Linked DNA regions of Homo sapiens: all the other regions are linked to region 2. The links come from fine-mapping of genetic effects on gene expression. A gene starts in region 2. Each other region holds a variant in brackets. All regions are shown on one strand. Distances are from middle to middle.

What was found. PIP is the estimated chance that this variant, and not a neighbour inherited with it, causes the effect. A credible set is the group of variants that fine-mapping cannot tell apart.
Region 1: its variant is the best candidate, but not a certain one, in a credible set for the expression of THBS1 in blood mononuclear cells (TOPMed, PIP 0.75).
Region 3: its variant is the best candidate, but not a certain one, in a credible set for the expression of THBS1 in whole blood (INTERVAL, PIP 0.82).

What each region holds. Positions count from the first base shown.
Region 1 is chr15:39,310,491-39,315,718 of GRCh38, reverse strand. The region is part of intron 1 of LOC105370777 (a long non-coding RNA gene); the gene reads left to right. Among named protein-coding and RNA genes, the nearest start is that of LINC02915, 62 kb to the right of the region's middle. The variant G/A (reference allele first, on the strand shown) is at 3,085.
Region 2 is chr15:39,578,348-39,583,575 of GRCh38, reverse strand. It overlaps THBS1 (thrombospondin 1), which reads right to left and starts at 2,497. Exons shown (of 22, transcript NM_003246.4): 1 at 2,348-2,497; 2 at 1,652-1,747; 3 at 824-1,383. The coding sequence starts at 1,718. LOC124903470 reads right to left here and starts at 3,769. Exons shown (of 1, transcript XM_047433405.1): 1 at 2,582-3,769. The coding sequence starts at 3,258. The coding sequence ends at 2,824. RefSeq lists silencers at 2,957-3,006, 3,017-3,246 and an enhancer at 2,669-3,406.
Region 3 is chr15:39,324,698-39,329,925 of GRCh38, reverse strand. The region is part of intron 1 of LOC105370777 (a long non-coding RNA gene); the gene reads left to right. Among named protein-coding and RNA genes, the nearest start is that of LINC02915, 77 kb to the right of the region's middle. The variant G/T (reference allele first, on the strand shown) is at 2,671.

The DNA of each region.
Region 1 (5,228 bases), 270 kb after region 2:
AAGCACTCAAGAGAATTCTGGTTTAAGTGAGCTGGACCAAACACTGAGAAGCATTGTCATAGGGATCTCTGGCTCCTAGTTAAAAGGCATTGCCTCAGACTGCCTTAGAGCTCCAATGTTTCTGTATATATTTTCAAAATTAATTATTATCTTTCTCAATTTCACTCTATAAAGAAAACTCAAGTTCCCCATCAAATGAATTAGCCATTTTGGAGCAAAAATCAAAAGAAAGGAAAGAAGATTTTTGTTTTGACTGAGCCAGTTTGGCTGGCTTCCTATCCTGGCATCATCAGTTGAGTATTAAATTTCCAAGTCACTGGGTGACAGTATGCCTGGCTTCATCCCAGTATGGGCATTCATCAGCTGCATTGTACAGTAAGTACAGTAAGAACTGTCTTGTAAGAACGGGCTAGACTTAGTGAGACAATCCTGGTTTGTTCTGAAGAGCATAATCAAATGAGTGATTGCAAATGGAAATTGAGATCAGAGCCAGAAAAGGGGTCTTGAGCAGCAGATTTGTGATCAAGGCAATGCTGCCCAAAGAGGGCAAATTGAGCTCTCAGGAGGACTAACATTCAGGAAAACGTTAGGTAATGGGGCTTGAGTTGGATGAAGGCAAGCAGTTCAGGATGGAGGCTGTGATAAAGATGTTAGTCTTATCAAATACTGGCCAGTTTAAACACATTAGACTTGACTGGACAAAAAATGTTCTACATGGACATTCACTGATGAACCCTTATTACATAGAAGTCCAAGAAATAAAAGTTCATGGATGGTAAAATATGTCCATCTTATTTCTGATGATCATTTTTTGACAGTGAATTTACATAGAAATGATGAATAGCTCTATGTAGTTTTCATTGGTAATATTCTTTATTAGGGTATTATCTAGTTCAGTGGTTGGAAAACTTTACATAGACAGGGTAGAAAATTTTAGACTTTGTGACCTATCATACTGTCTCCATTATAAATTCATTTTTAATAATCCTTTAATAATGTAAAAATTCTTAGCTTTCAGGAAGTACAAAAACAAGGCAAGAACTGGATTTGGCCCTAAAGCTATGGTTTGCTGACCCTCTTATAGATTATCTCAACAGTAGAGTTATTTTCTATTTACATAGTATTTGGTGTTCTCTGATAGGAAATATAGGTCAGTGGAAGAACAGCTATATTTATTTAAGTTTCTCATGGAGGATATATCCCCTTCCTTATTTACTGAAAGGAGGGCTTAATACCATAAGCATGAGAAGTGGTGTTTTCTAAGCCTGAGTCCTCCTGTAGCCATCTAATATTAAAACCTGTAAGGAAAGAGTTGGATTTCAACTTGGTTTCTTTTGATCTATAAATTCAGGTATGATGGTGGTCTGGCCCTTTTGGGCTCTAAATTTAGCAATTAGCTTACTTTTGTTTATGTTTAACTACAATAAGCACCTTCTGGATTATCTGGATCTGGATTATCGGGATCATTATTTTATTGCCTGTGTACTAAAATGAGATTTAAGTCCAAGTAGACATTTGAACATAAGATTATTTGGGTTCCAGTAGGACTGCTTTAACTGTTTCCACATAATGAGACTAAAACAAACATAAACTTCATAATGGCCAAATGATGCCAACAGACAGTTTGGAAGGACTTTATCAGAGAAAACATTGATTGGATATTGAGTCATTGCATAACACATGGTCTATATAGTACAAAACTAGATAGATCTTGTAACATAGCTGTCAGCTCCTTATCCTCCCTGGAGCAGAAGAGGTTCAATTTTAGTCAAACAGTATGTTGGTCACATTTGATTAATGCTTTTAATTTGAATTTCAGTGATGGCACATTTAATTTGTAAATATGCATAAAGCTTGTTCAGTTATGAATATATGTGTGTGTATGCAGTTTAAGTTACCTCTAGGAGTGTTAGGAGATGGTCATAGTGGTCAACGTATAAATAAGGGCCAAGAACAAGGTGGTTGCAGTTAAGGTGGTTAAAGCAGGTCTGTGGTGATCCACAGGAGGCCATTCAGTGTCGTAGAGAGACGCCCCTTCCTAAGGCAGGTGCAGCCTGGAGCCAGGGCTCAAGGCCTTGCCAGCAGTGATTGGCTGGGTTTTAGCCTTGTTCACCCCCTCAGCTGAGCACTGTTGTTCAGGGGTATGTTCCTGTCCTAAGTAAGAGGGGGTGTGATTTAAGAGATAATATAGGGTAATAATCTTTGGGACTTAGTCAATTAAGTCTGGAGATGAAGAATTATTTCCTAACTTCCTCATTGACTGTTTTAAAACAATCCTCACTAAGCCACGTGGCTTTGGTGATGATTGTTTTAAAACAATATCTGATTTACTGAATCTTTCAGAAAAATTGAAATAACTGATATGAATTTTTCACAAGCTTTGATACAGTTAAGAAAAACAAAATGTAAGAAAAGAATATTGAAAGGGCTAAGCAACAGCAGCAATAGACTTGGGCAGGAGGTATGCGCACTACAAACTCGAGACCTGTGGACTTAGGCACTTCCTCTTTGCCATAGGTGTGCTTATTGGGGGTGTCATGGGCATGAGTCCACAGTGCCCTCTACTGCCTCCCAGTAGGTCTGTTCTAACATGCAACAGCTTGGTGGTCTCTTGTCCCCAGAATGAAGCAACTTTTTAAAAAAATTTATAATTATTTTATTTTATACTTTAAGTTCTGGGGTGCATGTGCAGAACATGCAGGTTTGTTACATAGGTATACACGAGCCATGGAGGTTTGCTGCACCCATCAACCCATCATCTACATTAGGTATTTCTCCTAATGCTGTCCCTCCGCTAGCCCCTCACCCTGGTGTGTGATGTTCCCCTCCCTGTGTCCATATGTTCTCATTGTTCAACTCCTACTTATGAGTGAGAACATGCAGTTTCTGGTTTTCTGTTCTGTTAGTTTGCTGAGGATGATGGTTCCAGCTTCATCCATGTCCCTGCAAAGGACATGAACTCATCCTTTTTTTATGGCTGCTTAGTATTCCATGATATATATGTGCCATATTTTCTTTATCCAGTCTATCATCGATGGGCATTTGGGTTGGTTCCAAGTCTTTGCTATTGTGAATAGTGCCGCA[G/A]TAAACATACATGTGCATGTGTCTTTATAGTAGAATGATTTGTAATCCTTTGGGTATATATCCAGTAATGGGATTGCTGAGTCAAATAGTATTTCTGGTTCTAGATCCTTGAAGAATCGCCACACTGTCTTCCACAATGGTTAAACTAATTTACACTCCCACCAACAGTGTAAAAGCATTCCTATTTCTCCATATCCTCTTGGCTAAAATCAAGTGTAGTATCTGTTCTTATCAGTTTAATGGAGCAACTTTTAAAGGGAGTTTCCTTCTAGGTGGACCCGTCACTATGGTGCAGAGAAGCAGGGAATGACTGGGTGGAACTGCAGGGCTGCTTCAGTGGGCAGGGAGAGTGCATCAGGGGAACCATGCAGAATGCTGGGCTACTCATCTGCCTCTCCATTTCACAGGAGAAACAGAGAGCTGTTGGTTTGATTGACTTAAATGGATTTTTATTTATTTAATTTATAGTAAGTGCCGCGTATTGCTAGGCCTTGCAAAGTCAAGGGTATCAGGAATATAAGAGGACTGAAAGCAATATTCCTCGTGCTTCCAGAGCAGATGCCTAACCGGGGAGGCAGAGCTCAAGTGTGGTACACTGAGAACGCCTAGGATGCAAACACAGGTGGATTTGTTTATTACTAAAGCGGCACAGGGAAACTTCTCAGAGTGAGAACATATTTTGTCAGTAGGAGGAGCGCCACATAAGATGAAATCAGACTGCACACATGCATGAGGGTTTTCTGTTTAACTTGGGGGTGAAGATGAACTTTCAAAGGGGCCTTAGAGGCAGGTATATTACATCCATATTTTTGAGTATGAAGAAGAAGGGGCAAGCAATACTTAGTGGAAACAAGACAAAATTCAGAGATAAGAGTGCAAGTGGAGTTCAAACATAGTAAGAAGAGAGGTTAATGGTATCTATCTCCCAGCAGGCAGAACACCACCACACTCCTGGGAAATGTTTCCCCAGGCACCGGAGTATGGAGGTGTGCTCTCCCCATTAGTAGGGGGTTCTTAGTATTGAGCCAGGCTTTTGCTTGCTTGAGGCCTGATTACTGTAATACTTGGTCTAATTCTTTTCGACTTGGGCCACAGGCTTAGGCATTGCTGAGCAGCTGCTGTGTGTTTTTGTCCTCTAGCAATGGTGAGCACTTTAGCCTTGATATACTGGAGCCTAAAAACATATGGCAACAGCTCTCAATCAATGTCCTGGAGCTCTCAATCAAGTTGATGTTTTGTTTGGTTGTGTTAAAAATGGATTTGGCCGGCACTATGGTTCACACCTGTAATCCCAGCACTTTGGGAGGCCGAGGTGGGTGGGTCATGAGGTCAGGAGATCGAGCCCAGCCTGGCCAACATGGTAAAACCCCGTCTCTACTCAAAATACAAAAATTAGCTGGGTGTGGTGGCGGGCGCCTGTAATCCCAGCTACTTGGGAGGTTGAGGCAGGAGAATCATTTGAACCTGGGAGGTGGAGGTGGTTGTAGTGAGCCGAGATTGTGACATTGCACTCCGGCCTGGGCAACAGGGCGAGACTCCATCTCAAAACAAAATAAATAAAAAAGGATTTAAGGATAGTTTTCATGGCATCCTTTCCCCATAATTGCAGATATTAAATGCAGCCTAAGAACAAGTGTTAAAACATCCTCAGAGACAGTTTAGTAGTGAAACACCCAAGTCTTTCTGACATTAATAGGCTTTAGTGGGATTAGCTTAGTAATAGTTACATAATGTGTGATTCGTGGCAATGAAAATGCTAAAAGGGCCAATTATTGCATCATAATGGACACACCTTTAACATAAAGATACATTTGTCATTTTGTGGTGTTCATCTATATTTAAATGAAGGATACGAATCATCATTGTAATGGCAACTTTAGCTGTCAGGGATCCTGTTGCAGCTCTGCCTCAGCCAGTCTGTGCACAGAGCATGGAGCACCAGGGCCATGGAGCATGTGGGCTATGGAATCGGGTTGCCTATTTTCATCTTGACTCCATCACTTGCTGGGCAACCTTGAGTAAGTGGCTTAACCATTTTCTGAGCCTCAATTTCTTCACCTATAAAGTGGGGGTCATACTAGTGTGTCCCTGTAATTATGGGGATTAATGGAGATAACATGTGAATCACACATAGCAATGTTAGG
Region 2 (5,228 bases):
GGGTGGGGATGGGGTTGGGGGAGACTGTCTGTATGCTAGGAAAAGCATACAATAGATGTTCTAAAAGCTTCAAAGAGCTGTCTTAAGATCACTATGTCAAAATAACACAGCAACATTAATCGCCAAACAACTTCAAAATCTTAATTGTGACTTCTGCCAAGTCTTGAGTATTTTACAAAGAATTCAGTTATCAGCCTACTTGGGTACACAGGAAATGGAATCTGATCCTAAGCCTAGAGGATATAATGACACTTTCCAGTGTCAAAGAGTTAAATGTGGGAGTTCAAAGCCACCGTTGCAAAGATCTAGAAGTTAAGGCACAGATGAAGCTGTAACAGCAACAACTAACTGCTATTTTAACCTTTTATGTGAGACCAGCTGCATCCCCATGAGGAATCCAATAGCAAAGTGGTACTGATTCTGCCCATAGAAAGTATCCATTTCAAACAAGATTAAAATTGGGGGAATGCATTTGAAATAAGCTCTTTTCTTAAGAGCCTAAGGAGTATCTAAGGCTTGAACAGGCTGACTGCTAAAGGAAAACCATTTCTTGTTTCCTTGAGTAGTTTTCAAAGTGTGCTTCCCAGACCACCGGCATCAGCATCACCTGGTACTTGTTAGAGTTGCAGTTTTACAGAATCCCAGACTCTGGGGCTGGGGTGCAGCAGGGTGAGCTTTCACAAGCCCTCCAGGTGATGCTCATGCTGCCTAAAATCTGAGAACTGCTGCGTTAGTTTACAGACAGGATTTCCTGTAGCCCTCCTGGCAGGTCACCTGTCTAGCAGATGATCCCACGGAGCAGGGCTCAGAGAAGAAGCCTCACCTGGAAATTGTCATTGACGCCCCCCTTTGCGATGCGGAGTCTGGCGATGCTGGCCAGGTCTCTGGTGAAGACGCTTTGGATGGGGACGTCCAACTCAGCATTCTCCATCTTTTCACAGTCGATGTACAGCTGGGCCCTGTCTTCCTGCACAAACAGGGTGATGCTCTTCCACTGGCCGGTTGCCAGGAGAGCTTCTTCCACAGACACCACGTGCTGCTTTCCTTGGACGGTCAGGCTGAGGTCCAGGGTGCCCGCCTTGCCATTGGACACCACGCTGAAGACCTGGCCAGAGTGGTCTTTCCGCTCCAGGGCCAGCAGCGTGCCCCGGGTCTTCTTCATCTGCCTCAGGGATGCCAGAAGGAGGAAACCCTTTTCTGCCCGCACAGCATCCACCAGGTCTTGGAACTTGTCATCAGGCACAGGGGGGATCAGGTTGGCATCCTCGATGCGGAAAGCTGGGCTGGAAGGGTCGGGGCCCTTCACCAGTCGGCGCCCAGACCCCTTGCGGGCGGCCCCGGTGAGTTCAAAGATGTCAAACACGCTGTTGTCTCCGCCAGACTCTGTTAGACAGGAGAGAACACAAAGTGAGCTTTCTAGGCTGGGACCAGCAGTAGGGGGCTGAGTCCTTAGGGGTGGAGACAAAGGGTTGGGGTGAAAACTCCTGGCAACCACTGAAAGAGGTGAATAAATACCAGGATCAGAGTGAAGCTGCGTCCTGATGTCCAGTCAGGCTCAAGAGGGAGAGGACAGCACGTGAGGGGGCACACCTGGGATAGCCAGCACCTCTTCCTTGTCCCTCCTTCCCCTAAAGGTGCCACACAAACTCACCTGGAATGCGGTTGGTGCCACACACATGCATCAGGAACAGGACGCCTAGTCCCCAGGCCAGCCCCATGGTGGAGCTGTTGGTGCCCAGCAGGGATCCTGTAGCAGGAAGCACAAGAGCCGAGGGTCAGAGATCAGCTAGGCAGGGAGGGACGGTGCGCAGAAACGGGGCTGGGCATGGGGACAGGGCCGGGACCATCCCTCTTTGACCCCGCGTTTGCTGAAATGAAGGACAACAGGATTACTTTCCAGAGAGCATGAGAGAGAGAGAGAGAGAGAGAGAGAGAGGTGGAGGAAAGAGATGCTGGTTTTAAAGTGTGGGGGGCGCAAGACCAACAATTTGGGGGCTTTTGGGAAGTCGAAGGTGAGCAAGATCAGGAACTGTAGTTTGGGGTTGCAGGGAGGGCAGGGGAAGTACAGACTCTTCCCTGGAGTGCTGATACAAAGGCTTAAGGAGGACTTCAGAGAGTAAGGAAATCTTGGGGTGTCCTGATGAGTTGGTTTGTGAACCTCAAGGCTGGAGAGGATGGCTCTGGAGCCTTGCCCTGAAGAGTCCTCCAGCGGCTGAGAGGAGCGGGCTGGGGTAGGCGAGCGGGGAGAGTGTAGGTTCCGGGGTCCACCAGAGGGACTGAAGCCTCAGCGCTCCAGGTGGATGTCCCGGGCAGCTTTGGTCCTCGGCGGCCGCCGGGGGCGACTTACCTGTGTGTACCGGAGCGCGGCGGCCGGGAGCGGTGGCGAGGGCGGCGAGGGCTGGAGGGGCGCGGGGAATGCCTGTGCGTCCGGAGTAGAGGTTGCTCCTGGAGAGCGACAGGAGCCCTGAACTCGCAGGCCAGCTCGGGCGCAGCGGCTGGCAAGGCGGAGGAGCCGCGCGCTTTTAAAGGGGCGCTCGCATTCCTGGGGATTCCTCCGGCCAATGGGCGGCGGCCGGGCAGGAAGCGGGAGGTGGGGGCCAGTCTGGGCTCCTCTCTCCGCCCCCCGCTGCCTGGCGCGCAACTTTCCAGCTAGAAAGTGAAGGGGGCGGGGGTCGGGGCTTGGGAGCACTAGAACTTCTCAGAAAAGTCGGTGCCCGCCCACGCAGCCTTGGCGCGCACGGGCTCGGCGCTCGTACTCTTGCGCCACGCGGGCTCGGGGTGATCAGCAAGCATCCCGAAAAGGGACGGGGCTGGGGAGACCACCTAGGAGGGCCCGCGGGGTGGCGCAGGGGCTTTCGGGCGAGCTGATCTCCCGGAATGCCTGGTTGATGGCGAGAGGTGGATACTAGAGACTGGGCCCGTTTTGTAAAAAGAAAAATGGGCCGACGGGGCGCAGGGGACACCAAGAGAGCCATTCGTTAAAGTACCTGCCCCTCGGGCCCTCGCTGACTCTCCTCCACCGTCCCCGTGGGGTGAGGACACGCGTCCCCCGAGCGCCTGTCCTGAGCTGGCCCCACGCCCGCCCCGGAGGGAGGTGAGCGCGGCGTCGGCGGGGCCGGCAGGTTGGTGCGCCGCGTTCGCCTTCGCTGCCTTCGGGCCCTTTCCTGCCGCGGCTGCCAGGGGGCCCACAGAGACGCCTCTCCCGCTGCCGCGGCGCTCCCTCGGCCGGCCGCTTGGGGGCGGTGTGCGTATTCTCATCAAGGGGCCCGGGGAGGACAGCTGCTTTCTACTCGAATTTTAAGGAAACTTACTCGTATCCAGTTTCCACAAGCCAAATTGAAATTGTGTCTTGAAAAACAGTTTTTGTGCCCACTCGTGCTTCTTAACGTGACTCCTGTTTGGAGAATTTGCAGAACCATCTGGCTCCAGAGTCTTCAGCTATTTACAGAGCAGACCCATAGAGTAATAAATTACTCTCTGCCTATTATTGTATTTCCCTTTTTCCTCCCTAAACGTTCTTTTCATTTTTCGGCTCCTGAACCCGAGGTGTGGGTTACATTTCTGTGGGTGCACACATTGCCATGAGTGCCGCTGCCTAGTGCTTCTGTCATTGAAGTCTGGTCTCCAAGCCACTGTCCCAAGCCAGCATGACTCTAGCTTCCTGGAATTCCATTCATCTCTTCGGGATGGGACGTCAGCCGCCTCGCTCCCTCTGCTGTGATCCAGCGCTATCGGGCTCGCTCCGAGGCCAGGGCATAGGTAGAAGCTTGACCAAATAAGGATCTCAGCACGGGCAGGGGGAAACCCCTGGGGTTCACCTCCCATCTTAGCACTTAAACCTGGCAGGACTCCCGACTGCTGCAAACAGCCAAGTGTTTACATTCATCAAACAGCAGTTTCGCTTTTCTTGCGTGGGAGTGTTGTATGACAAGATGGTGTGTGTGTGTGTGTGTGTGTGTGTGTATTACGGAAAGAGTGTTTTCTAGTTACTCAATATGTATATAAAATGCCTCTAAAAGATGACCGGTATGTTCCTAAGGCACATGTTTGTTGGATTTCAGATGTTGGGAGGCAGAAAGAAAAGTTTCTACTGGTTGATGAATAAAATCAGATTCTTGTCCCGCAAATCATAGGTAATGATTCATCCAAGCAGATCTGAAGATTCTGGAATCGGCACCCATCCATCTCCCTCCCCTTCCTTCTCCTTCTACAGCATTCATCTTGCTCTTCGAAAAGTAATTGGGTTTTTTTTTTCTTCTTTCCACTTGCTCCATGATACTGGACAGTCAGAAATAGTTCTTGGAGGGATGGGCCGCTCATGGCTCTGGGCTCCTCTGGCCCACTGGATCATTGTGTACAAATCAGATGGGGGCTTGAGGGCTGCAAGAGGCCCACAAAAGCAGAATGCATCTTGTATGAAAAGATTATCTCCCCTAGGCTTAGCTGTGCAGACAGAGTAGAAACCAGCACTCACTGCCCCTTCAGGATTCATGCTGCCATGGCTGAGGGATTGTAGGAATGCCTCTGCAGATTTCTTGGAACTTGGCTTCTTTCAACAAAACAAGGACAACAGTTTCCAAACTTCATCATGCTTTACCAATAAGAAGGTGACCTATACGGTGGCAGGAAAGAGCTTTCTTATTAGAGAAAGCTGACAGGTATAGGAGCTGCTTATCTCAAACACAAAGCCCTTCCTCTTATCATGATACTTCAGTTGTTCTGGGTGGAAAGGAAAGGTCATAGAAGAGGGAGTGTCTGCGCCCCTTAACAGGAATTCACCCACATTCTTGCCAGCCAACATGTGCTGCAAATATTCCCCAAACCTCATATACCTCTGTGCAGCTTTGAGAGAAGCAGGGATGGGAAAAGGGAAAAGAAAACCTATCCCCTTTAATGTGAGGGCAATAGTCCATTTTGAGTGTGTCTCTACAACCTGGAAGCACTGTGATTTTAAGGCAATCAATTAACATGGGCCGAAGTGATGGACCTTTCAGGGAGCTGGTCCAGTTCTCTTTTTTGCCAAGTTGTCATCCTTGAGGATTAGTTACTGAAAATTGTAAGGCATATGGCATTTCACCGTAGGATTTCCTTTTTCTAAGTTTCTCTAATTGGAGGTGGGATTGACCTAAATACATTGGCAGTAAGTGTGAGGAAAGGGCTGTCAGTTACAGCTAGTTTTAAAATTGCGTGTAATTAAGGAGAGCAACATAATTGAGAAAAAATATTTT
Region 3 (5,228 bases), 250 kb after region 2:
TGTAGTTCCTTACTCAGTAGCTTGATGCAGATAATCACTGCGATGTTAAAAGCCAAAACAAAATTAGCTGGGCATGGTGGTCTGTGCCTGTAGTCCCAGCTACTTGGGAGGCTGAGGTGGTAGGATCGTCTGAGGCTGGGAGGCGGAAGTTGCAGTGCTTCGTGAATGTACCACTGCATTCCAGTCTTGGTGACAAAGCGAGACCCTGTCTCAGATAACAAGAAGCAGCATGAGACCCTCACTAGATACAGCTGTCCAATCTTAGACATTTTAGCCAGCAGAACTGTGAGCCAAACAAACCTTTTTTTTTTAAATAAATTACTCAGCCTCAGATATTCTGTTGTAGCAACACAAAATGGACTAATACAGGGTATGTTAATGGACTATTAGATGTCTGCTAGACTGTAAGCCACATAAAATCAGAGAGAGAGTTTTCTAATTGTCTTTTCAAAGCTGTGTTCCAAGAACCAAGCATAGAAGCAAACACACCATAGGTGTTCAGAAAATGCTTCTGGAATAAATGAATGAAATAATTTCTTCATAGAACTTTGTTACGGACTTAGCCATTATACATCCATCATATACCTCAGTCTTCATAGCATAACAAATGAAGAAATGGAAGCTCACAGAGAGGAAGTGACTATCCAAGGCCAAATATCTAGTTAATCCCAGGACACAGATCAGCAAGCACAGAGTTTCAGTCTGTTGCCTTTTTTTCATCCCATCTTCCATCCACAGTAACCATATTTACATCCACAGATGCTAAGGAAAGAAAAGCAAGATTTTGTGCCTTTGCTTCTAACCTATTAATCTCGACTAGAATGAGTTGCATATTAATACAGTTTACATGTGAAATAAGTTCTGAATGGGCCATATGCTTTGCTGGGGATTCATGGGAAACCTGTTTTGGAAATCAAATGGCAGGAGAGACATGTAACTGTCATTTGATCTGTACCTTATGAAGTTAAGAAAGTCATCCTGCAAGAAGCAAACTTGAACTGGTTTTTTTTAGAATGGGATATATTTCGTTTGGAGAATAGGGTCTTGGAATACGATACTGGGTATAGCGAAGCTCACAGTCAGCAAAGGGTACAGTGTGTTACTGGGTGGTCATAGCCAGACTGAGGCACAGGTTGAGTAAAGCTGAAAGGGCTTTCGGGAGCTTGGGAACAACAGGGCAGGTGGATAAGCAAACCCAGAGATTATTTTTGATAGTTGGTGCTTATATTTCTTTTATTTGAATTAAAATATGATGCAGGTAAATATAAACTCCATTTTTAAAATGTTTCTGTAGAACAGCTTCCCACACACACACAGGTTTATCCCAGCCCAGTCAACGACAAACTCTTTTCCACACAGACCTTTCAAAACTCAGCGCCGTGATGGAATGACTGAAAAGGACTCTTCTGGGTGGCCATTGCTGTTTGTTTCTGGTTTTATAAATCTATGATTCTGTGCTATATGTCTTTTCACTGTCTTTCACAAGTAGGCATATCCCAAGAAGTCCTGGTTGTCACATTAACCGTCACGGTGGCATTCACTGTGCCTGGCATAGAACCTGTCTGGATGGGCAGGTTTAGGTGATGGAAGAAACACTCATACTATCCTTGAGTGAGGTTTGGATGAGTTGAGGTTTCATGGAATAAAAACTTTGCCAACTTCTTCTCCAAGAAAATAACATCAATCTAAGAATTCAATTGGAGGAGGGCAATTTATTTTTCAAAAGTTGCTTTGTGCTTGCAAGTTATTCTTTTGAAGATGGAGTGACTCTATTTTTGATAAGCAATGCTGGAGAATGAACGAATACAAGGAATAGGGATTCTGGGTCCTCAGAAAAGAAGGCTATATCTTCTCTACTCTTCTCACTTTCAAAGTCTTGTGGGCCAAGATTAGGTTGACCTCAACCAACTGGCACTGTAGCCCTATTGGAGGAATGCACAAGCCCTGTGTCACTTGTCACTGCTTGTCCTAAGTCAAGAGTCATGCTCCCAGGAAGCCGGAGTGCAGTCCGGCCTCCAGAAAGGCCTTCCCAAGACAGCACAGGTGAGGATGCCTGGGACTGGTGCCATCTGAGCTATCACACAGGCTTGCTTTAGTTCTAAGACTAACTCAAATGCTGAGTACAGCCCTGGACCCTGAGAGTCTGAGGGACTGAGTTAAGGGGACCGTATGCAGTCCCTTTCCTAGGAGGAACTACTCTTATAGTTTACCCTAAGAATAATAGGTGAAATAAATGCATAAAAAGGTAGCTTGCCAGATCCTCAAAACATGTAGGATTTTCCAAGGAGGAGCACTTGAAAAGAAGATATAGTTGAACTTTGGGAGAGAAGTATGAAAAGAGAAGCAGGTCTTTGCAATGCTGTGGAAATGTTTCCAGCAGCCAGAGTTGCTCTGTGCTTATGGGCATCATGTTATGTGTTCACAAGGGAAGTTACCTTTCCTGTGAATGTTGGTCTTGACTTGTCCTTTTGGACGAAGGGGTGGGTTCTGGAGGGGAGCAGAGGATGGAAGTAGAAGATCTTACCATATTTTAAAGGGAATTTTTAATATTTGATTTTAAACAAAATGCATAGAAAGTTAACCAACTGCACAGATGAAAAGGGGAAATCCCTATGTCCAAGTTTTGTCACTGTGGTATTGAGCAAAGTCAAATTTCTGCAATTTCAAGGG[G/T]GTATGTACAAAGCTCTTCTCTCTATGTATGGGACAAAAGCTGCTTCTGCCTAAACCGTTTTGAGTTGCTTCATAATTTTCACATATACCCCTCTCTCCCCATCAGATACAAGCTGCAGCACCACATGGTTGGGCAATGACCTTTTCACACTTTCGAGTCACGTTGGACATTTTGCAATTACAAATTTAATAGATAACATGTGCGTCAAAATCAGCTTTGAGCCTTCCTGTTTGACGGAGTTTTTGGACAAAGAGCTGTTCTTCTGAACTCGTAACATGCAAAGTATGCAGGTAGCATGTAAAGTTATTTTCACCTTATTTATTTTCAAAGACTGTATTTTTTTAAAAGAATCAAGTTAAAAAAATACATTCTGTCACTCTTACCTCATGCCAAAGCACTGCAGACTTTACAGTGTAATCTGCATTTGGGCACAGACAAAGCTTGAGAGGTTGAGCTCAAAGGGAAAAAAAGGTTTGTGAGAGTTATGAGCAGATGGAGGGAGGGCTTTATTTTTAATTAGGAGCTCATTTAGAATGGAAATCTGTATGTAATCTGAACTACTGTGTGTACGGTGGTGGACATTAACTGGGAGAACAATGAGAACTTCTGTTGAAGCTTTATCTGAACTGCAGCTCTGTTTTCCATACCTCAGTTGTCCAGGTAACGATATTGTCAAATCCAGTGACTTGATCATAAGGAGACTCTCAGATGGGGCATAGGAAAAACGTACACAATGCCTGATGATGGGGAAGTGAGGAGAGAGAGCCTGTGAGAAGGAATGAATCGCTGTTGCAAGCTGAGATGCTTTTCTTCCCCCTTTATTAGACACTTCTTTCCAAGTCTGGAGTAAGTTTCTAGAATTCTCTTTGTCTTTTCCCTCTGCGCTTTCCTAGTTCTTTGTCATCTTAACAGCTTTTGGAGGAACCAGTCAAATATTTAAACTGAGACATGGTTCTTCTTCCTTTCCCTTCCACAGGAACAAGTTGCATCTGGTAGCCATGTCATAAACCAGTGTAAACACATCTCCTTTTCTGTCTTAAAATTCACATAACTTTCTTGACCTACTTTACATACAATAACATTAGAGCCAAAAATGTACTTTGCCTCATCAGATAGGGGCTTTGCTTGCCTGGTCCTACCTCTTTTCTGTCTATCAGTATCTCTTGGCAGAGGTACTTCCATTACAACCCAGTGTCCTGGGGCTGGAGATAAAAACACCCAACATGTAGCAGTAATGGATGAGCTAAGTCTGACAGAGAGATTAGCTCATCAATTTGGGGGTTTGGGTGACGATGGTAAAAATATAGCTGTGCTTTCCTCAATCTCATTCTCTTGTGAGCACTTCTCTTCTCCTGAAACACTTGAGTTCTTTCTAAATAATGTGGCACGTGAGAAGAGAGCATGATACGACACCATTTGAGAGAAATCCATCAAGGTACAGGCAGACCTTGAGAAGAGTTCAAAAAGTATAATTTCTGGGTAGTGATTGTAAGTTTTTAAATAAATTTTTTTTTTTTCCAAAAGAGCTTCAAAGGAGATGGCAATATTTTTAACTGAATTTGATCTAATTCTTTCTTGAAGCTTACAGAAGAAATTCAGTGTGGAGTCCAGGAAAAGAGAGGTTTGCCCCTCTGTTGGGGAACGAGGTACATAGGACATAGGATGGCAGCCTTTGATGGAGCTTAAGAATGGCACCAATGAGATGCAAAGGGGAACGGGAGAGGCATGGAAATGTCAAAGAGAAAACCAAGACTATACATGCTTTTAAAAATTACTTATGGGCCGGGCGTGGTGGCTCACGCCTGTAATCCCAGCAATTTAGGGAGGCCATGGCAGGTAGATGACCTGAGGTCAGGAGTTCGAGACCAGCCTGGCCAACATGGTGAAACCTCATCTGTACTAAAAATACAAAAAAAAAAAAAAAATTAGCTGGGCATGGTGGTGGGTGTCTGTAATCCCGGCTATTTGGGAGGCTGAGGCAGGAGAATTACTTGAACCCGGGAGGCCAAGGTTGCATTGAGCCGAGATTGCACCACTGCACTCCAGCCTGGGGGACAAGAGCAAGACTCTGTCTCAACAAAACAAAACAAAACAAAAAAAAGTTTTTTAAAAAGCATTTTTTTCCCATTATAAAAATGTAATATAAAAAACATTTTTTGTATTATTGTCCATGGATTGGGGCCAATTAACTTATGATAGGTAGAATTAAGTGTAGTAAAGAAAGCGCCAGTGGAAAAAAAGAACCCTTGGGAAGGAGGGGAAGACTGAAAATACATTCATCCATTAATAAATCCTTCTGCTTATGAAATTTTAAAAAAAATTCACACATTATTACTCTCTTTGCACAACTCAGACATAGTTATTATTCCTTGTGGTATGTAAGAAAGGTGGGTCTGAAAAAGGTATTCCAGATGTGAAATTCAGATTGTGTTGGCTGATAATTCAGCTGAAGGCATTTACTCTCTGTAGTTTTCCAAGCCGTTCTCCTGGAAGGACACACCTGAGGGTGGGCAGATGCCAAGTGTGAGGTGAGAGGAATATGGAAACCCAGGCTGGT